Regions from separate parts of the Homo sapiens genome. Here regions 1, 2 and 4 are each reported to be linked to region 3. Evidence: microRNA targets listed by miRTarBase, many of them from high-throughput screens and not tested one by one. Region 3 holds a microRNA gene; each other region holds the end of a gene's coding sequence.

The links. Region 3 holds the annotated microRNA hsa-miR-6718-5p (UAGUGGUCAGAGGGCUUAUGA, at 2,855-2,875, shown strand). A microRNA usually pairs through its seed, bases 2 to 8, with sites in the 3' UTR of a target mRNA and lowers its output. Matches are read on the target gene's strand: a 7mer-m8 pairs with bases 2 to 8, a 7mer-A1 pairs with bases 2 to 7 and ends in A, and an 8mer does both.
Region 1: the mRNA of PPIE is a reported target of hsa-miR-6718-5p. Seed matches in the 3' UTR shown: 7mer-A1 at 2,754-2,760.
Region 2: the mRNA of TSPAN12 is a reported target of hsa-miR-6718-5p. Seed matches in the 3' UTR shown: 7mer-A1 at 4,211-4,217.
Region 4: the mRNA of NDUFA12 is a reported target of hsa-miR-6718-5p. The part of its 3' UTR that is shown has no 7-base or 8-base seed match.

Annotation. Positions count from the first base shown.
Region 1 is chr1:39,751,865-39,757,370 of GRCh38, reverse strand. It overlaps PPIE (peptidylprolyl isomerase E), which reads right to left. Exons shown (of 10, transcript NM_006112.4): 9 at 4,319-4,461; 10 at 602-4,084. The coding sequence ends at 4,016. It overlaps BMP8B (bone morphogenetic protein 8b), which reads left to right. Exons shown (of 7, transcript NM_001720.5): 7 at 1-189. Among named protein-coding and RNA genes, the nearest start is that of PPIE, 16 kb to the right of the region's middle.
Region 2 is chr7:120,783,598-120,789,098 of GRCh38, forward strand. TSPAN12 (tetraspanin 12) reads right to left here. Exons shown (of 8, transcript NM_012338.4): 8 at 3,723-5,300. The coding sequence ends at 4,995. Among named protein-coding and RNA genes, the nearest start is that of TSPAN12, 72 kb to the right of the region's middle.
Region 3 is chr18:3,882,509-3,888,014 of GRCh38, forward strand. It overlaps MIR6718 (microRNA 6718), which reads left to right and starts at 2,845; the gene lies at 2,845-2,924. All of the region lies in intron 3 of DLGAP1 (DLG associated protein 1), which reads right to left. All of the region lies in intron 1 of DLGAP1-AS3 (DLGAP1 antisense RNA 3), which reads left to right. It overlaps LOC124904238 (a long non-coding RNA gene), which reads left to right. Exons shown (of 4, transcript XR_007066270.1): 3 at 3,285-3,411; 4 at 4,276-4,789.
Region 4 is chr12:94,967,332-94,972,837 of GRCh38, forward strand. NDUFA12 (NADH:ubiquinone oxidoreductase subunit A12) reads right to left here. Exons shown (of 4, transcript NM_018838.5): 4 at 4,002-4,289. The coding sequence ends at 4,109. Among named protein-coding and RNA genes, the nearest start is that of NDUFA12, 34 kb to the right of the region's middle.

The DNA of each region.
Region 1 (5,506 bases), not on the chromosome of region 3:
TCCTTTGTAGAGTATGATATTGGTTCTTTCCTCCCAAAGCTATTATAAAGACTAAATATGTACACAAATCTTTGGGATGTCTGACATATAAATGCTTAACAATAGGTATTTGCTGGTATTATTACAAATGAATTTGCTTATTTTTGAGCCACTTCTATGTCTGTCCATTAAACCAAAATGTGTTCTGCAGGTGATGATGTATTTATTTCAGAGCTGTGCTCTTTCCTAAACCATCTACACATGGCATCCCTCAGAGGGCGGGACTTGTATTCTTATAGCCTTTAAAGGCCTAGCAAGTGTCACTTGTGGCAGCGGCTGTGAAACTTTGCTGTGTTCCCAGACAATGGGATCCCATGTCCTGCTGAGAGAGGTCTGTACCCACCAGGTGTCTTGGGTGGCAATTTGCATGGGGGAACTGCCCATCCAGGTCAACTGCTTGGCCCCCTTTTTGAAAGGAACCCTGGATGGGCACTTGACCCCCTTTTTCAAAAATGTCTTTCACTTCTCAAAAAAATAATGCAGTTTTGGAGGAAAGTGGGATATATAAAAAATAAAATACAATTCAAATCACTACAGTCCCACAAGTCAAATAAACACACTATTAATATTTTTGTGGCTTTATTTCTAGGCTTTTTTTCTTAAGATATACAAATACCTATGCTTACATATTACAGATATTTTTACAAAATTGGGATCACACTGTACTATATATGTTTCTTTGTGATGTGCTTTTTCTACTTTAGTTTCCCATCACTGAACTCTACAAGACTCCATTTTCAACAATAAAAAGTTGGTTCTATAATTCCTTCTTCAGAGGTTGCCGTGAGGCTGCCATGACTGCAACAGATGCTGGGAGCACCTGGAGGCGGCTGTCATGCTGTTGGAGAGGACACTCCAACAGCCACAGCACTGATCCTGGGCCTGCCATCCCTGGTTTCAGCCTTTGTAACCGTTTCAGGGCCAGCATGTGGGGACTCAGATGGGGCTCAACTCTGAATGAGTTAGGGGGGAAATGAATCAGCAAAAGGAAGCCCTGTGCCCAGTCCTGGTGCTGGTCCAGCAATGGGAATGTGGAATGGGGAGGCCAGTTGGGACAGGAGCCACACAGTCCCAGGGAAAGCCGCTTTGCTCTCCAGGCTGCAGGAAAGGACGCCCACAGAGCCACTGGCTCCACTTCCCAGAGAGGTCAGAGTTTTCCCGAGGCAGCCAGGTGCAGCTGCTGCATGGTGCGTAGCCGAAGCAGGTGGCCAGGCTGTGGGGCATGCCACTGCCCAGCTCTGGGGCTCCCCTCCCTTCTGGCCTGGAAGAGCAGGGTCTTGTCTCCTGTGTCTCTCCACACAGGTCCTGGCCAATCATGGGGACCATGACTGTGTCACTCCCCAGGGCTGTGGACCCTGCCGCCACAGATTGAGGCTAAAGCCTAGTAAACCTCCCAGGACTCCATTACTACTGAAGAGAGACAGGCTGGGCTTCTAATCCCAGCTCTGCCAAACCACCCTGTGTGACCTTTGGCAGTCACGCCAATAAAGCCTCAGTTTACCTGTGCAGGGTTCCAGTGTGCATTCAATAACATCTGTGAACACCCAGGAGGAACACTGGGAGAGGAGTCCACACCCAATGGCTCCAAACCTGCTGAGCTTTCAGAACTGCCCACTGGCCTCCACCTCCCCAGAGTATCAGGGAGGAACAGAGTGACAAGGTTGTCACAGGAGTCTGTCCTTTTATGGGAGGCTGGCTGTGCTTTTTCTACACACTCTCTCCTGGTTCTCGTCCAAGCACTGAAGTCAGTGCTATCATCCCCAGCTTCATAGATGCCTGCCTAACACCTGTGACTGACCTCTGATGGCCATTATTTGCACTCAGAGAAGGGGCTGTGCTTTGAGGGAGGGTCTCTTTTGGAAGCTCCATAGGGGTGAGGGGTAACCATGTAGTATATCCCAGCTACATGGAGCCTGAACTCAGTCAACTGTAGCAGCTGGAGCTCACAAAGTCCAGTCGGCACATGGGAGCCAGAGGTAGGGCAGAATGCCACCATCCCTCAGCAAGAGCTATCCTAGGGTCATGAGGACCACCTAGCCTCTCCTGCCTCCTGGCTCATCCAGATCTCAATCCAAGATGCAAAAGCTCAGCTCAGTGGATTCTGAATGGTCTGAGTGACCCAACCCACAGGAGGTGTCCAACAGCTACAGGACTCAGTCCCTGCTAAAAGCCTTCAGCAGATGAGATTCTTTATAACCGCCTGGCTGACCAGCATCTGGAGGGGGAGTGGAGAGAAGCCAGCTCCAAGAAGTGGCTGCACACAGGAGAGCCAGACTGTGAGCTCAGCAGGGGGTGGGACCATTTGTTCTCTTCAGTGGCTGGCAATCCTGTTTTGTAAAGGCTCAGATAGTAAGTATTTTAGGCCTTGGGACTGTGATGGTCTATTTTGTGTGTCAATTTGGCTAGGCCATGGTATCCAGTTTTTAGTCAAACACTAGTCTAGATGTTGCTGTGATGATGGTTTCTTTTTTTCAAGACAGGGTCTCCCTCTTGTCACCCAGGCTGGAGTACAGTGGCATGACCATGGCTGACTGCAGCCTCAACCTCCCAGGTTCAAGCGATCCTCCCACCTCAGCCTTCTGAGTAGCTGGGACTATAGGTGTGCACTACCATACCTGGCTTTTTTTTCTCCCCCTAGAGATGGGGGTCTCTACATTGCCCAGGCTGGTCTTGAACTCCTGGGCTCAAGTGATCCTCCTGCCTCAGCCTCCCAATAGTGGTGGAATTATAGGCATGAGCCACCATGCCTGGCCTATTTTTTAGATGGATTAATATTTAAGTCAGTAGAGAGTAAAGCAGATTACCCTCCATAATGTGGGTAGGCCTCATCCAATCAGTTGAAATTCTTAAGAGAAAAAAGACTGAGATCACTGGAGGAAGAATTCTGCTTCCAAACTGCCTCAGAGCTGAACTGCAACATCAGTTTTTTTCCTGAGTCTCCAGCCTGCTGGTCTGTTGTGCAGATTGCAGACTTGCCAGCTCCTACCACTGCTTGAGCCAGTTCCTTAAAATAAATCTCTTTCTACATATATACACACCCTATTGGTTCTGCTTCTCTAGAAAACCCTAATACAGGGACCATAGCCTGTATTGTGTCTATAGCCCCTTACGCACCTCTGCCACTGCAGTAAGAAACCACCATGGACAATATGTAAATAAATGGACGTGGCTGTGTTCCAATAAAACCTGATTCATAAAAACAGGCAGTGGGCTGGATTAGGCACATGTAGTTTGTTGGCTTCCTGTCTCCTGACAAATAGGCATAGTACTTGGCACAGAGAAGGCACTTTGAGTTATAAAAATTTCATTTTTTAAAATCTGTAGGGTGAAAGTGAACAAATAAACAAATGAACCACTGAGAGTACACTTGCTGGCTGTAAGGCCGGCAGCTGGGTTTAGGAGCAGAGGCAGCAGAAGACCGGAGCTTTCCAGTCTTTAATTTCCGTTGCCCTGACATCGATGCCTGGTGTGAAGATACATCACCTGACATCTAAGGGGATCGGCCCAAGGGAGGAAATGAAAGCTGTGAAAAAGATGCTCTGCTCTCCCCACTCACCAGCCTGCCTCAGAGGTCCAGCTTAGCCACAGACACAATCTCTGACAACTCCCAAGAACTAGCAGGAAGAGCAATATAAGAACTAGGGTTTATTTTAGCAAAGAAAACACGTAAGAGCCACACTGGTAGTCCCAGGAGAGGCCCAGCAGCAAATGCTGAGAAAAGCCAGTGGCTTTTTGCACAGCCTGCCCATGGTGGAGGGGAGCACCTGAGCTGGCTCCTGGGCCCACAGCTGTGCCTGGGAATAGTCCAGGCTGTGCCTGCAGAGGAGCTGCTCCAAGCAGACCCTGAGGAAGGGCACATATCCCAAATGCTGCTTGCTTCAAACAGGCACCCTCGGTGCTGCCTCCTCTGAGGCTGGCAGTTCCTTCCTGGATATGCAGGGTCAAGAGCGGAGGGGGAAGCAGAGAGAGTGCCGCCTCACACGTACTCCCCACAGTCGGCGATGATCACCTTCTGCTTTGGCTTCCCGTCCTTGCTGCCCTGGGCCTTTGTGGCAGAATAGAAGTGAGGGAGTAAGGCCGGAGACTAACAGTGGTTTAGGGATACCAACCCCTGCCTGCCCATTTGCCCACTTCCACCCCGGAACCTGGGCAGCAGCAGCCCCTCCCGCTGGACACAGCCCCTGGCCATCTCTCTCAGGCCACAGAGACTCTCCAGCCCTCACACAGGGCTGTGCTCCTAGGGCCTGGGTAAGGAGGAGGCCCATTCCTGGCCACATACCTCAATTTGCCGCAAGACATCTAGGCCTTCGGTGACCTCTCCAAACACCACATGCTTGCCATCCAGCCAGTCTGTCTTGTCACATGTCAGGAAGAACTGAGAGCCATTGGTGTTTGGGCCAGAGTTGGCCATGGATAGTAGACCTGAGGGAGAGAACAACCATCAGCTCCCCGAACCCTGGCTACCAGCCCTTAAAGGACGTCTGTGCAGGCTGTTGACAGCCCTTCAGCCAGTCAGGCTCAGACTCGGGGATGCACAGATCACATGCAAATGCGGCCACCTTATCTTGGATTCAGTTAATAGTCAGTGAAATGGTAAGTGAGGTGTTTCAATCACTTTATACTGGTCTGTTCTTTCATTAATTCATTTATTTAACAATTAAGTGTCTACTTGACAACCAGGTCCCTGTTAAGCCCTGGGAACACTGATGAGCAGAACATAGTCCAAGCTCTGGTGGAGCTCACAATCAGTGGAAAAGAGCCATTCAAAATGACAGCTATGACACAGTGAGGCCTGGTAACATGGACATTTGTCACGTAAGAGAATGTACATGTATATGTGTGTGTCTGTGTGTGTATGTGTACATGTATGTATGTGTGTGTGTGTCCACAATGACTCCTAAGTTTCTGATCAAGCGGCTAAGTGGATGGTGGAGTCATTTATTGAAACAGGGAAGAGGAGGAGGAAGAGTTTAGGGGAGAAGGCCAAGAGCTGTTTTAGACATGTAAAGTGTGAGATGCTCGTGGGATATCCAGTGAAGACAACAGGCAGGCAGTTGGACAGGAGTCTGGAGCTCAGGGAGCCATCAGCATGCAGATGCCAGTCTGCACAAACTTAACTCAGAGATACCGCTGAAAGCCCTGGGACCGGGTGTGACTGCTTAGGGCACTGCTTCTCAGTGGGGTTGGTGTCCTGTCCCTAGGAAACCTTTGGAAATCTGAATTTACTTTTTTTGAGATGGGGATCACTCTGTCACCCAGGCTGAGTACAGGAGTGCATCACAGCTCACTGTAGCCTCAATCTCTGGGGCACAAGCAATCCTCTCACCTCAACTCCCAAGCGGCTGAGACTACAGGCGTGCACCACCACACCTGGATAATTTTTTTATTCTTTTTTCAGTAGATATAGGGTCTCACTATGTTGCCCAGGCTGGTCTCGAACTCCTGAACTCACGTGATCCTCTGGCTT
Region 2 (5,501 bases), not on the chromosome of region 3:
TTCGGGTTACTCACATATGCATTTTATGAGCTAAAATTTCACTTCTATTTTGTTTAAGCCACGGTATTTTGAAATCTCTAATATAGCAGCCAAAATTTTGAATTGAGCTATTGCTTCCTTGTAGTCCTCATGGTAGCCAGGCAAGGCCTAGGGTGGCCAGTGGCCCCTGAGCTTCACGTATCCTAGCGTGTCTTATAAATAACATATACATGAATGAGTTGGGAAGCTCTGCCTTTCTTACAACAAGGAACCTCTGGAAGTGTTCGAGTAAGGAAGCAGCAAGATAAGAATAAAGTTTCACAAGAATTAATCTGAGTGATAGTTAACAGATCAGTGTTGCCTGGGGCTAGGAGAGGGGAATGCAGGATTTATCACAGATGGGCAAGAGGAAACTTTTTGACACGATGAAAATGTTCTAGATCTCGATTGTTGTTGTGGTTACATGAGTATATATAGTTGCCAAAACTAATTAACTATATACTTGAAAGGGGTATATTTATTAGGGGTGTGTGTGTGTGTATGTGTGTGTGTATATATATATAGTATGTTTTTATATATATATGTATATAAAATCTCAATAAAGTTGATTAAAGAACTTAATTTGGGCTGGGCATGGTGACTCATGCCTGTAATCCCAGCACTTCGGGAGGCTGAGGTGGGCGGATCATGAGGTCAGGAGTTCAAGGCCAGCCTGGTCAACATAGTGAAACCCCATCTCTACTAAAAATACAAAATATTAGCCAGGCGTGGTGATGCACAGCTGTAATCCCAGACATTTGGGAGGCTGAGGCAGGAGAATCGCTTGAACCTGGGAGGCAGGGGTTGCAGTGAGCCGAGGTTGCACCACTGACTTCAGCCTGGGTGACAGTGTGAGACTCTGTCTCAAAAAAAACAGAACTTAATTTGCCTGTGTGTGTATGTGTGTGTACAAGATATTTTAGATAATTTATACTTGTTCTTGGGAAATAATAGTAGGAATGAGGTTAGACAAGAGCATCATTTTGATTTGGCCTGGTGATATTGATTTACATGTAGGAGAATTTGGCTTTTCTAGGTAAAGAATCATCTGAGCTTCACCACAGGCTGGTGAAGATACCATGCCACAAAATGGGGAAAGTGGAAGTATAGCTCTGCCACATATTAGCTAAGTAAATGTATTCAGTCTCTTGGAGTCCCTCTTGTTCATTTGTAAAATAAAGTGGGGTGCCTGCAAATTGCAAATGAGTTGTGAAGAACAGAGAAAATAAGTGTAAAGCACCTCCTACATGTGCCTGGTACCTAGTACGCACCCCTGAAAGTATGAGGTAAAGAGTGATTGCAATTAACACATAAAAATAGAAAAAGAAAAGCTTTCAAGATCAAGATGATACCAAAGATTCTCCTATATATGTTTCTAGGATGTGAGGAAATGAGAACTCAGTTCACAGGGGAGACGAATCTGCTTGTAAATCTCAGGATGACAATAGGAAGGGGGTTGGGTGAAGCAACATAGCAGTTGGCAGTGTTTTAAAAAAGGGGCAGCTTCTTTGCCAGAGAAGATTCAGTAGTATAGTGATTTCTTCTTTCTTTACCTCCCTTGACTCATCCACAGGAGAGGGAATTCAGACAAAAGGAAGCTTCTGTGGCAATCTATTTAAGATTCTCCTCATATAAGATTTGGTTCCCAGCCCATTTTCTGTCAGGCTTCCTGAGATGGGAAAGCAATGCATAAAAATTCTCAGGCTTGACAGTGAATTCTCCTGAGCTCCAGACTGAAATTTACAGCTGCCTGTAGACATCTCCATCTGCATGTCCTGCAGGCATCTCCAACTCTGTGTCTCAGACCAAATTAATTACCCTCTCATACTCGTTCCCCTCCAGTCTTCCATCTAGGTTAATGCCATTGCCAATTTGCCAGGCACAAAATCCAGAAATTTCAGTACTTTTACTTCTTGTCCCACACTCCCTGAGGTCTAGCTACTGCCAATTTTTGTGGATTCACCCTGTTGTGATCTGTTTTATGCACTCTGTTTTTTGACTTCCATTGTCCTGGTGAGGATCCTTATCCCTCTCCAGGACCACAACAACAGCAATCTATTCAGTCTCCTGCCAGGGCCTGCAGTGTGTACAACTCTCAAGTGCTCCACTTACCTAGGCTGTGGTCAATGGTGGCCCACCCACCCAGGAGTTGCAAAATAAGTATAACTGTCTCCTGGTCCCCTCTTTCTCACTTGGCTAATCCAGTTAAATTAATGAAATATTCATCATTTCTCTTTCTGAAATTGCTTCGGTGACTTTACTTTGGGCCTACAGAACAAAGCACCCAAACTCAAATTTCATTCATTTCCTGTCCCATGGCATCTCTTCAATCATTCTATGATCTAACCACATTGAACCATAAGTCATAACTCCAAAATAATGTATACTTTTTAACCTCAAACTCATGGCTCATGGAATATTTTCCATGAGCCAGCTAGACTCCACTGCTCCTTCTGATCCAGCTTGAACGCCATCTCCTTGGCATAGCTGCCTTAATTCCACTCTACTCCATCTCTTATTCTTAAGAAGGGCCCCACTCACTGCATATTCCCTTATTTATTTTTCCTGTGGTTAGCACAAGTGTCTCTAACCCAGATTCTACAGTGTTTAAGGACAGACATCATCTCTTGTTGCCATCTCTGAGTCTCCAGGGCACTTTGAATGGACTTTTAACCAGTCTAAAAATAATCTTCTTAAATTTCTACTTTTAAAAAATGGTGATTTTTTTTTTTAACCAAAGAAAGCTTTTAAAAATTCCCAAAGAAACAGTTAACAGTTTTGTTTGCAATGTACCCAAATAGTGAACTCCCTCAGCTCTACTGCATTAAATATACTTTTTTAACTCCCTTGCAGTTTTATTATTCCAGGTGCACTGCTACCATAAGAGGCTTTGTGAGCTACTGCTATAAATGTCATTCATTCCCATTAAGCAAGTGTATTATATACAAAACGATTGTCTAAATTTATGTTGACCATTCTAGAGGGTAGTGTATCAGGTAATACATCAAAATATCTGAGGTCTAAAAATGTAGAAAGCAACTTTTATAATTTGAGGACTTTTTATTTTACTGAGCCCAACATATTATATGCTTGCTCTTGCTGTGACTGTAAGACATATCAAAAAAAGCAGCAGCTAAATTTGACCATTATACAAATAATTCAAACAAAACTCATACATAGCTATCTCAGTTACGTGGGTATTTTAGGTGAAATTACAGGGATTTGGGGTATTGAGGAAGTTATTAAAAGGGATGCTTTTGGCTCTGATTGAACAAGTAATGTACTCAGTTTTCATTAAAATCTATGGAAGATTTTAAACATGGCAGTCAATTTCAAGGATTATATTCCTTAACTCATTTGAAGAGAATTTGAAATTAACTAAGAGACTCATAGTCTCTTAAAAATTAATAAGTTATAAAACTGTGATATGCAAACATTGAAAAGATGAACACAAATGGGCATATTTTTATATTATCTCAAACAAGTATATTATTTAACATTTAGGTAAAAAGCAAAAGTGAAAAATGGGCATCTTTTTGACTCTTCTCAGTGAAAATACATATTCTTATAGGTCCATTCCGGAGTTTGGAAATCAATATTAATACTTTATGCAATCATTCTTTCTCATGTTTTTCTCCCCTTGACAATCTTCTCAAGTGGCATAAGTGCTTGTAATGTATTAAAAAGTAGGCAGAGACAAATCATTACTCTCTAGAAAATATTTATTGACACATTTTAATTTTCTTTCCATATTCTGAGAAATAAACAAAATACACAAAATACAGTAAAATGCACTTTTCCCATTTCAAATAAATATACTATACTCTTGTAAAAAAATTTAATAATCTGTGTAATTTGCCACAGTATATTAATCAGTGAAATAAAACAAAGAATCTCTAAATTGTCACATGTTTTAATGATTCTCACAAGCATTTTTCTGGAGAAAAAGAACACTATTTTCTGTAGAATTTATATTGACTTGGAGACTATTGCTTCTTGTTTGGAGAAGGCAAAGATAAGCTTTTTAAAAAGTGTTTAGTGTCAAAAAGAGTCTTCATTTGGGAGAAAAACAGCATACAAGTCCTTTCTGAATCAACTAAGTTATGTGCAAATTTTCTTATTAATACTTCCTAAAGACCAGACTACATTCTGAATAATGATTCCTATGTATCACACTGGTAATTTTCAAAATTAGTGGTTAAGTATTTAAATAACAGTTATATGTGTAATATAAGCCCAGGACAGAATAGTAAAGCTTTATTAACAGGAAAGGCTAAAAATAATGATGCTATACAGGACAAATTTTCCTTTTCATAATGGTTATTCTTAACATTATCAGAACTGAAATCGACTGAATTATACAGATTTAACACAGACTTATATACAAAAAATCCCTGATCAGCTTAAGACAATGTGTTAGCTTGCTCTTTTAAGTGGTAAGAATATTTTAGTAACCAGCAAAAATCACATTTAGGTAGTCACCAATATTGAAAGTTTTCTGATATATAATTTATTTAGCATCAGAAGAATAGATCGCTGAGTAATAAAAGTTATTAGTATTTTCTAACTTCCTATGTTAGCATTTAATTAGTACTTTATATACTAGTTGGTAGAAGTAAATCAACCTTTACTATGGCTCCAGTCCCACCATATGTGACTCGTTTGCATGGATGCGGAAATGCTAATCAAACCATGCTGCCTCAAAACATAACTGTGTTCAGTAAAAGTCATACACAGGCTACACAGTGGGTATGACATCTGTCTTCAGCATTTTAAGGGCATCAATTATTGTCCAGGTGGTGACTTATGACATGAAACTTTTCCATCCTCATTTTAAAGCATAGAATAGTATATGCTTAGGTGTTATTTTATGGCAACATTTTTATTTCTACATATTTCTGAAACACATAGTATGTACTCAAAAATTCACAAGTCCAGTAAAACAAGTTTGTGGTTTTCTTCTGTGACATTTCTTTTTATAACTCCTCCATCTCAAAGTGTGTATTAAAGCTGTTTGCCATGGATGTGTGTTCAAAGATTCTTGACAGGCTTGGTTTCAACAGTTCTACTGAGGGACATGACAGGTGCTGAGAGTTGTCATTCTTCAAGGACATCATTTGGTCTGTCCCCGGCTCCCTTCTATCATAATACAGAGCCCAGAGCAGAGTAATGGTGAGAATCATGGCCAGGATTTGTGTCACCCCAATGGAGATTCCCAGAAACCTCAGCACCTGCAGTTGTTTGGTTCCTCTCAAAAAGGAATACATTTTCTTCCCACAACCCTGTAAAAGAAATACATGGTCAACATTACTTTAGATATGTTACAGAAGGCCAAAAATAGTTAATGAAAGCAAACAATCTGTATCAGTTAATGAAATCAGACTAACTGGGATCATAAAGTTTAAGACAGTGGTTCTCAGGGAAAGCTGATGAGAAGAAGGAGAGAGGGAGGTGTGTAGCTTTTGAAAAGCCTGTCCAGCTGA
Region 3 (5,506 bases):
AGAATGAGACCCTGTCTCAAAAAAAAAAAAAAAAAGTTAATAGCCGATGGCAAAATGACCAAAGGATGGCCCTTGAAAAGTTCTTGAGGACATGAGTGAAGGACCCCAGACCTAATAGCTCAGCCTCAGGGAAAAGTCACTCATTCATATCCCATGTAGGGTATCTCAGTCCATTTCCAAGCTCGGATCTTCCGGAGTTTTAGTAACTAACAGAGGCTGCTATTCCATCAGGGCAGAGTATTTTCTCTGGACTCCAAAACAGTGTTAGAGTCAGTGCCTGACCAAGTTCCTTCTGACAGCCTGATTTTCTTTCAAGACTTCCTACAATACAAAAATTGCCATATAAAGAGTCATCTTGGAAAGCCAACATGACTCTCTAAAATATCACTAATGTCATTTCAGATATTCCTAGAGAGATAGATATGTGGTTTAATTAAGAAACAAAACATATAGTGCTGGGTGCGGTGGCTCACGCCTGTAATCCTAGCACTTTGGGGGGCCGAGGCAGGCGAATCACCTGAAGTCAGGAGTTCAAGACCAGTCTAGCCAACATGGTGAAACCTCGTCTCTACTAAAAATACAAAAATTAGCTGGGCATGGTGGCGGGAGCCTGTAATATCAGCTACTTGGGAGGCTGAGGCAGGAGAATTGCTTGAATCCAGGAGGCGGAGGTTGCGGCAAGCCGAGATCGTGCCACTGCACTCCAACCTGGGTGACAGAGCAAGATTCCATCTCAAAACAAACAAACAAACAAACAAAAACAAACAAACATATAAAACACCCACACTGGACCTCATGAAAAAAGATTTTTGAGAGGCCAGGTCTTGTCTATTCCATGAGACATACTGCATCTGGGAGCGCTCATGACAATGTTGGCAATCTCTATCCATGCTTTGTGAAGCTCCTTTCTTCCTCCTGTCTCCCAGTTTCTGGATTGACCATTCAGGAATAATGATGAAAGGTTTTAATCAGTACAGTCACTCAAAATTTGTTAGTCTACTAAATTGTGACGTCCTTAAGGGTAGGGACTATGTTTCACCCACCTAGTATTTGGCAAAGTGCTATCCTAGTGGATAGTGGGAATTAAGTTAGTAGAATATTTACTCAATTACTTAATGCATTAATGCAAAATTTCCCAAAGTGGTTCATAGTGTGATTCAAGTAGCATCTGTTTAATGAAAACATGACTGTGTGGCAAAGGCCAGGCTGGGCAAGGCCAAGGAAAGATGCCCAATAGTTGGGGGGACCATTCCATCAGGGTGACCATTCCAAAGACCAGTCTTCAGAGCAAGGCAGGAAGCAGACTGGTGAACACTCCTTCTGACCTATATACCTTTGACTTCTAACTCTGCAACTCACTGGGCAATATCGTACCTTCTGCCGTTCTACCTGTCTGGAAGTAAAGTCTGGGGAGTTTGCCTAACCTGCTGACTACAGGATGCTTAGACAGAGGGCAATCCGCCTGGAAGAGAGAGAGAAACTGACTCTTGAAGGGACAAAAAAGGAATTCAGGACTTATGATACCTGTGGATAAGGAAGAACCGATAGGTAAAAAACGTGTCCACTGGTGACAGACTAATGAAACAGAAAACCTTGGGATTGCTTTGTATGAAGTTATGGTCCTAAAAGTAGGCTGTGGCAAGGAAGAATGTAAGAGGGTTAAGTATGTGTTTTTAGCAAAACTGTGGCACAAACTAACTTAGATGCAAAAATCCATTGCATAAGAAAGTCTCTCTCTACAAATCAGGTTCCACTGAGGACATTTTTGCCTTTCAAATACAGACTTATAAAAAGCAAAAACAAGATTCTATTAGGATTATAGACACATACTAACTTTTATGATCACATATAGTAGAATCTCAATATATAAAATGATGTGGAATAATGTTTCGAACTTTCCTTCTCAAGCAGTTTGAATCTTGGGTAGATATTTTCTGCTAAATAAAATGTGAAACTGGCAAGAGCTGAAAACATGAATTATACATGTTTACTCCAAAATATACAAGATTATTTTAATCAGGTATTCAGTATTTAATTATCTTTAATATGTGAGCAACATTCCATGCAAGATGACGTTACCTGAGGACAAGCAGAGCAAACGAAGAGCTGTTTAAGGCCACTAATGATGATTTAAGTTAAATGATGTAACCAATGATAATTTCTGTAAATTAATCATACACAGTGTGTTTTTTACTAAAATTTAACTGGGCTATTTTCAGCACAGGACAAGCACCTCTATTTTCTTGGAGGGTAACAAATTGCATCCAGAATAAATAAGCTAACATTCCTCCTTCCTTACTTGTATTTGTAAAAGAGATATTGAGATCTTGATCTTTTTTCTCTATGATGTGGGAAAAGAAGGTCATAAAAAATGGCAATAAACATTTCTAAATGCTAAATCTATCTTTCTGGTCAAGGCCAAATAAACAACTTAATACCATGGCCCTTTCTGTAACAAATCTTACACTCTCTTCTATCGTCTTGTCATTTTAAAATGAAAATAGGTCAATTTGTGATTATAAAAGAAAACACATTCTGTGACTTCTTGGTGAGCAAGGGCAAATGATCTAAAATCCTAAGGCCATTGGCAATGGGTAGACAATTGCTGGTGGCACCTACTATGGAGGTCCTGCTCTTCCTTCTCTCATTCTTCATTTTCCTCTTGCCTTACTCTTAAACTCCCTTTCCAGCACATTTATCTCTGTCACTTCTTTTTTCCCCCCTCTCCTAATTAATGTTTATAAGTTGTATCCATGGGTACCACTTGCTGCCACCTGTGGTGTGACCAAGAGCATCATTAGAAAGCTTCCTTGCCTGCTGCTGCAAAGACGACCAAATGCCTACAGTGAATCCCTAGTGGTCAGAGGGCTTATGATATATTGTGAGAGCCATGTCATAAGCCTTTTGGCCACTAGGGATTCAATGTATGCACTTCATGACCTAGCCACAAAAAAACATGAAAAGAGATAAATAACAATTCTCATTCTTCTATGCATTCTTGAAAAAAGAGGATGCTAGCCTCTCAATTAGATTTTAAGTAATGATAACAATTGCTGGAAATAGAGAGGGAAATTGCCTTTCAGGCCTTGTTCTTTGAGCAAGGATGGGGACTGTGGTCAGCATGTCTTCATGAGGGTTTCTGTGACTACCAGTGATTAGCTCTAATTTCTTCTTGTTCGCTGTGACTTCAACATTCTGTTTTATTGTCCTTCTAAGTTCAATTTTACCATTGTACCATGTCTCCTGATTTTTTTGCTTGGATAATTTGTTGACTCTGTTTGCAGCCATGAGACAAGCTCAGAGTGTGAGATGCACAGTTTTTCCAGAGTTCCAACACCTGGAGCAGAATTATCACTGTCCAGATGATGACCAAAACAAGAATAATCCAGCACTGTAAAGGAAATTTTCAAGGTAGGTAATTTATTAGACCCAAGGAAAACACAAACACACCACATATTAGAAGATGCTGACAAAGGGGAAATAGTCTTGCAAAGCTGGCAAGTCCTTATTCCATTTTGATTTTTGTGCATGTCTTTATTTAGAGCTGCTTTTCTTGATTTTTCTTTACATGCAGAAATAAGAGCATACTGAAGGCCCTCCTCTGTCTTACCCCATGAGGATGGACAGGCAGGCAATTGCGACTTACTTTAGAAAGAAAGTGGTGGACCCTGCCCAGGAGAACAGGGGCACTGTGTTCTTGTTTGAGGAGACATCAGGAAGAGGAAATCTCCATGAATCTTTTCAGGGTCAAGCTGTCCTAAAAATTTCTTTTTTGAATTTTTGTGGGTACCTAGTCATGTATATATTTCTGGGGTACATGAGATATTTTGATACAGGCATATAATGTTTAATAATCACATCAAGGTAAATGGAATATCCATCACGTCAAATATTTATCCTTTTTGTTACAAACAATGCAATTATACTCTTATAGTTATTTTTAAAAGTGCGATTAGATTATTATTGACTATAGTCACCCTATTGTGCTATCAAATACTAGATCTTATCATTCATTCGGACTTGCATCTATTTTTTTTGTACCCATTAATCATCCTCACTCTCCCACCTTAGCAACACCTCTCAACTACCCTTCCCAGCCTCTAAATGATCATCCTTCTAACTCTCTATCTCTCAAGTCAACTTTTTGGCATCCCTCCACCTGCCAGAAGCTTGTCCATGCCAGGTTATAACATACCACTAAAGAGAAAGAAAAGATTTTCTTGTTGAAAAGTACAAGCAGCCCTGAACAATGACTACATTTTCCATTCTCCCTAGATGTGCCTGGGTGACTATGCTGGCCAATGGAACATAACTTGAAACGGCATGTGTGATTTCTGGAAAACATCTCTAAAGTGAGGGGCATACGCTTCTTTACCCCTTCTCTGGCTGGAACGCAGCTGTGGGGGCTGGGTGAATAGTGATCTTTCCCATGAGGTGGAAGTTACAGTTTGAGGATTAGAGAAACAAAAGATAAAGGTTCTGACCTACAGCGGAGTGCCATATCCGCCCTGGATGTGCACCTCTGCATTTTGTTTAGTCGAGAGAAAAATAGACCTTTATCTTGTTTCCTTATCTTATCAAGTAAAGGAAGGGCCTGCGCTGGCCCCATAGGAAGCCAGAGTCCCTTGCTATTGAACCACGTGACAACTTTAGCCAAGGGCTCTGCAGAGGGAGTCTGTGTGGAGAGAGGAGACAAAATAGCTCGCGGTTATTTTGCTTTCTGTAATTTTGTGTACTGAACCTTGCACCTGCACCTGTTCCTAAGTGAGACAGGTAGTCAGGGCAAAATCATGAGACCCTTGGTGAAGCTATGTCAGGATGCAGCACTGTATTTGCAGGTGGTGGTAATCCATTAGAGGAATTTAAACAAGACAGTGGCATGGTCACACTTGTGCTAAAGATTTCTCTAGCTGTAGTTAGAGAATACATGTGGGAGTGGGGAGGGGCAAAAAGATCTCAAAGAAGCAATGATTTCTTGCAAGAGCAGTTTATGAGAGAAGACTGGAAGAAAAGAAGGAGTATACCAAGAGAGGAGGACAATGTCCTGGCCAGCTACGGCAGTGTCTCCTGATTCAGACCTCCTTGCTCACACATGCATGCTCCAACCACAGTCTGAACACATACATGACATTTTTTTTTAGACAGAACAAAATTAATTTTCCCGTTTACTTATAATAAATCCCAATTCTACAGAGATTGAGAATGATGAATGCCCAACAGGCTGATGATTTTAAATTATTACTTTTTAAAATAAGAAAATGGTTCTTACTACTAAAAAATGAAACCATGGCACTTTTGCGTAAAAGTAAACAGAAAACGGCCGGGGGCAGTGGCTCATGCCTGTGATCCCAGCACTTTGGGAGGCCGAGGTGGGCGGATCATGAGGTCAGGTGATCGAGACCATCCTGGCTAACATGGTCAAACCCCGTCTCTACTAAAAATACAAAAAATTAGCCAGGCGTGGTGGCGGGCGCCTGTAGTCCCAGCTACTTGGGAGGCTGAGGCA
Region 4 (5,506 bases), not on the chromosome of region 3:
GCCTCCTGAGTAGCTGGCACTACAGGCATGTGCCGCCATGCATGGCTAATTTTTGTATTTTTAGTAGAGACGGGTTTTTGCCATGTTGGCCAGGCTAGTCTCAAACGCCTGACCTCAGATGATCTGCCTGCCTCAGCCTTCCAAAGTGCTGGGATTACAGGCGTGAGCCACTGCACCCTGCCCTAAATCTAATCAATACAGTTTTGCTTCATTATGTCTACATGTAGAGTGCTTTTGTAGGTGGACAGTGGCTGTTTAGTAAATGCTCAATACACAGATTCTTTACTGGAATAATTTTGTTCAGGCCTTTTCCCAAAAAGTAACAATAAGTACTATGAATAAAATAAAACAAGGAAATTCATACAAATAAACAATAATAGGAAGTTCCTGAGGAAGCTACTTTAGATTAGATGGACACAGAACATTCTGTTGAGGAGGTGATACTTGTAAAGTAAGATATGAATGATACCAAAAAAAGGAGCAACACAAAGATGTTAATATTCTAGGCAGAAGGAAGAGCAAGTGCAAAGACCTAAGACGAGAATGAATCCAGTCTTTGAAGATTAGACAGAGGCTTGTGTGGCTGACCTGTAGTGGGTGATGCAGGGAGAAATGAGAGATGATATCTGAGAGGTAGGTCAGTAAGGCACATCATAAACACAAGCAGGGACTCCCACAGGCAGTTCCACTGTCTTTTTTTTTTTGAGACGGGAGTTTCACTCTTGTTGCCCAGGCTGGAGTACAATGGCTCACTGCAACCTCCGCCTCCCGGATTCAAGTGATTCTCCTGTCTCAGCCTCCCAAGTAGCTGGGATTACAGGCGCATGCCACCACACCTGACTAATTTTTCTATTTTTAGTAGAGGCGGGGTTTCATCATATTGGTCAGGCTGGTCTCGAATTCCTGACCTCAGGTGATCCGCCTGCCTTGGCCCCCCAAACTGCTGGGATTACAGGTGTGAGCCACTGCACTAGGCCTCTTTTCTTTTCTGTGAAGTGAGTTTCTCCACCACGGACACTGTCCTACATATGACAAGGTAGAAAGCATTCTAATCCCATGAATGCTGATGTTGACCAAGGCATGATAGGCAAGGAAAACAGACCCAAATTCAGAATAAGTGCCTATTCCCACAAAAACAAATCATCTCTCCCTCCAATATGGAAGAAGTCCCGTGAAATGAACTTGCCGCATTGACGATACTGGGCTTAGATATGTGTTTTCTGTTGGGATCTTCAAGAAGTAGGCACTGAGACAAAGATTTGTTCCCAGAAGGTGATCTCAGTAATCATCTGGCTACTTTGTTCTAAATCTTTTTGGATTACAGCTCCAAGCCTCAAGGTTCATTTGCCAAGCTCCTCCCAAAACTTTTACACTAATCTTCCATGTTGCTTTTCTCCATCTCTGACTATCTAGCCAGTGACTGGTTACGGTTACAGATCCTCACCTCAGATCATGTTTCTCTCAAGTCAAAGTACATGATAAAAGACAGTGCTTGGAATTCTGCCTACAAATTGAGATTTGCCCTCTACTGTCCTTCAAGACCACCCCAAATATACACAGTACATTTCTAGCTGATAGTGCCTATTGTTCATGGTATCTGTAAGCCAGGTTTGGTTTTTTTCATTTTCAGTTAACTGGATAATAATGCTCCACAAGGGTAAAGGGACAGATTGGTAGGGGCGAGGTGTGGGAATAGAGTAGTTAAAGGCACAGGGTCGGGAGAAATCTGTTCAAAGGAAATGTGTCTTCATGGCCTGTCTGGTCCCACCTGCTAGGTGATGGAGTGCTGCTGGAAATGGTCAACTTTATGAGTAGATGGATTAAATAGCACCTGGTGTCCCATAGCCTCCAACATCCCCAGAAGCAAATTAGAACCGTTTCTCAAAAGGAGAATAGTAATCTTCCAGAAGGGGGTATGACCTTGCTCCAAAGTCCTGTGGGCTTCCATTGTGATTCTCCTGGAGAAATTTGTCTCTGACTTCAATAAGTCTCCCAATCAGCCAGATAGACTTTGAGAGGGCTGAGCAGCAGAGCTGCTTGGACTGCAGACTGGGCCACCTACAGGGACTATTTTTGCTCTGCCAGCTTTTCAGGTCACCAGGTAAATAAATAAGTGCAAAACACCTGTATGTTATATGCTGTCTCAAAAGTCCAGGGCTCAAAAAGCCAAAACAGCACACTGAATAGTCTCTTGAAGGCACTGAATTCAACCTGATCCAGCTAAGTAAGGGATACTCAGGACATAGGGCTGTAGTAGACTAGTTTCTTATGAATGAGGAAGTTTCAAAATAACTGGTTTTTGCATGTTGGTTCTTTAGCACAGTTGTTCAAAACATTGGCTGTAAATGGAACCACAAGGTGGGTGCAGGGAGAGGTTTTAAAAATTACTGATGCCTGGAACCTGCCTTCAGAGATGCTGGTCTGATTGCCTGGCTTCTAGATTATAAAAAAGCTAATATGCAGCCAAGGGCAAAGACCATTGTTCTAGTTCCTTCTAGATGTCCCTATACCAATAGGCAGGGTCCCACTCTATCCCTTCATTTTCATATAGGAAACCAAGGAGGTAAGCTAACTCATATAATTACCCTGCGTTTCACTTATAACCCGAAAGGTATCTGAGACAGGTCTCAATCAATTCAGAAAGTTTATTTTGCTGAGGTTAAGGCTGTGCCTCTGACACAGCCTCAGGAGGTCCTGACAACATGTGCCCAAGTGGTCAGGGTACAGCTTGCTTTTAGACATTTTAGGGAGACATGAGACACCAATCAGTATGTGTAACATGTACACTGGTTCCGTCAGGTAAGACTGGACAACCTGAGATGGGGGCTTCCAGGTCATAAGTAGATAAGAGACAAAAGGTTGCATTCTTTTGAGTTCTTGAGCAGCCTTCCACTGAATACACTTTAGTCCGGCTCAGTGAATCCGTATTTTTAAATAAACAATAAGGCAGAGGAAGCAATCGGTATGCATTTATCTCCAGTGAGCCTCAGAGATGACTTTGAGTTCTGTCTGTCCTTTGTCCACAAGGAATTTCAAGGAAGGAGATATGTAGCTTTTTATCTTTGTAGCTATTAATATCTTATTTAGGGATAAAATGGGGGTCAGGTTTGCCTGACATAGTTTCCAGCTTGACTTTTCCCTTGGCTTAGTGATTTTGGGGTCCCAAGACTTATTTTCCTTTCACACACTTGATGCCTTGAGTTGAGATTTGAGAATCAAGGTTTATTCTCTCTTAAGTCATTCAATGCCCTTGGAAACAACCACCTGACTCCATAATCCTAGCATTTCTTTCCATTGCTATTAAATTGTTCCATGGTGGCTGCTAACCAGTCTCCAGGGGCCTTATCCTAAGGGGGCTCATGGATTCTGGTGACTAAAGGCAATAGCCTGCTAAGCTCCTTGATCACTGGAGCTGTGAGCTTTCCATCTGGAATGCAGAGAGATGTGGGCCTTTCACCCTACCCAGACACAACAACCAGTTCCAAAGATCCCGCATCATTTCCTTGAAGGTCTTTTGCCTACCTCTGGTACCAATCTGGATATTAAAGACTTTTTTATTTGTAAGCAACAAAAAAAATCTGTGACCCTAGTTAGCTTAAAGAACTAAGAATATATTGGAATAGAGTCTAGGATAGTTTACAGTTTAAAATGAACCATTAAAGAACCAGACTCAGGAAATACGATATCTCTGATAACCTCCTTAGAGAGCGTCAATAAAAGCCACCCAGTTTTGATGACTTTCAGCCTTCGTGTCTCTCCATTCAAGTTCCAAATTCCCATGAGAAAATCTGGCTTGGCTTAGGTCTTCCCATATAATGAGCTATGGTAGTAAGGTACGGTCCCAAAGCACAAACAGGACCACAGAGGCTGTTTCCAGAAAAGGGAACTGTAAACCAGGCAGCTACCCCAATACAAGTCTACTTCAATCACCATGTTTGGAAGCATCTATTTTGCAGTTGGAAAACAACAAAGTGAAGGGCAAAAAGGCACGAAAGACATTGTTTAGTCACACAATTTTAATTGTGAATTATAGTGAATGGTAAACAGTAAAAGAGTAATTACATGAAAAGCTCCATATTTTGCATGTTTCAACTGTTCTTCATTGTCTTTACTTGTAAGGTGTTGAAGGTGGGATCCACTCCTGAATCTTCTTTCTAGTGGTAGAATAAGGTACATATTGTTCTGGGGTGCCAGTCACGTTGAATTTATGGTTCGTCCAAATGAATTTACGAGCAGTAAGTGGTTTTGTTGTTGGAGGATCATCAGTCATACTGTGAAGCCAACGATGCCTTAAAGAGGGGAAAAAACCCAAACAGTTATGAAGAGGCAGTACAGCATAGTGGAAGGACGGTTAAAAACGTAGCCCTGGAACTATTTTGTTGCTTGGGTTCAAGCCTCAACTCCATCAGTTACTAGCTGAATTCTTCTATGCCTTAGATTTTTTCCATCTGAACATCCCTACTCCTCAGGGATGGTATAAACATAAAAGGAGATAATAGACATAAAGCACATAGAAAAATTCTTGTGTGTGGCAGATACGCAACAAATGTTAGCTACCGTTCTCATTACTGTATTTTTTTTTCTTCGTTTTCTTTCTTTCTTTCTTTTGGAGACAGGGTCTCACTCTGTCACCCAGGCTGGAATGAAGTAGCACTATCATGGCTCATTGCAGCCTCGAACTCCTGGGCTCATGTGATACTCCTACCTCAGCCTCCTACATAGCTAACACTACAAGAGCATGCCACCACCATGCCTGGCTGACTTTCAGAAGATTTTTGTAGAGATAGGATCTCACTATGCTGCCCAGGCTGATCTCAAACTTCTGAGCTCAAGGGATCTTCCTGCTTCAGCCTCCCAAAGTGCTGGGATTATAGGCATGAGCCACCATGCCCGGCCCATTACTGTATCTTATCAAATCTGACACTATCCATTTTCAGACATGCCATGATTTTATCTACCTCTAAGAAAGAAAAGATGCTACCAAATAAATTATGGCCACTACTGATTATAATATGTATCCTAATTTTAGACGTGGAAATGCATTTTAGAACTGATAAAAATACAGTATTACTATTAGGTGCTAGAGGCCGATTCTGGATTTTCAGTATGCTCAGGTTACTCTGGCTCATGAAGGTTTAGTTTAAAACCCATGAGGCTCCTGCTGAGAAGAGCCTGATGCATTGTAAATTCAAGCATGTGAGTGTAAACACTAGAGAATATGCAACTTGTTATATTAAAAAATTAAATCAGGGCCAGGCACAGTGGCTCATGTCTATAATCCCAGCACTTTGGGAGGACGAGGTGGGAGGATCACTTGAGGCCAGAAGCTCAGGACCAGCCTGGGCAACATAGTGAGACCCTGTCTTGAGAAAAAAGTTAAATCGACCCCCAATTCACAAATATTTCAGTCATAAGTGCTTAACAATTTAAGAGGATATGTTCCAGAAATCAGACCTAAAAGCTGGATACCTGGAGTTGAAAGGGAAGAGACCACCGATGCTGCTGC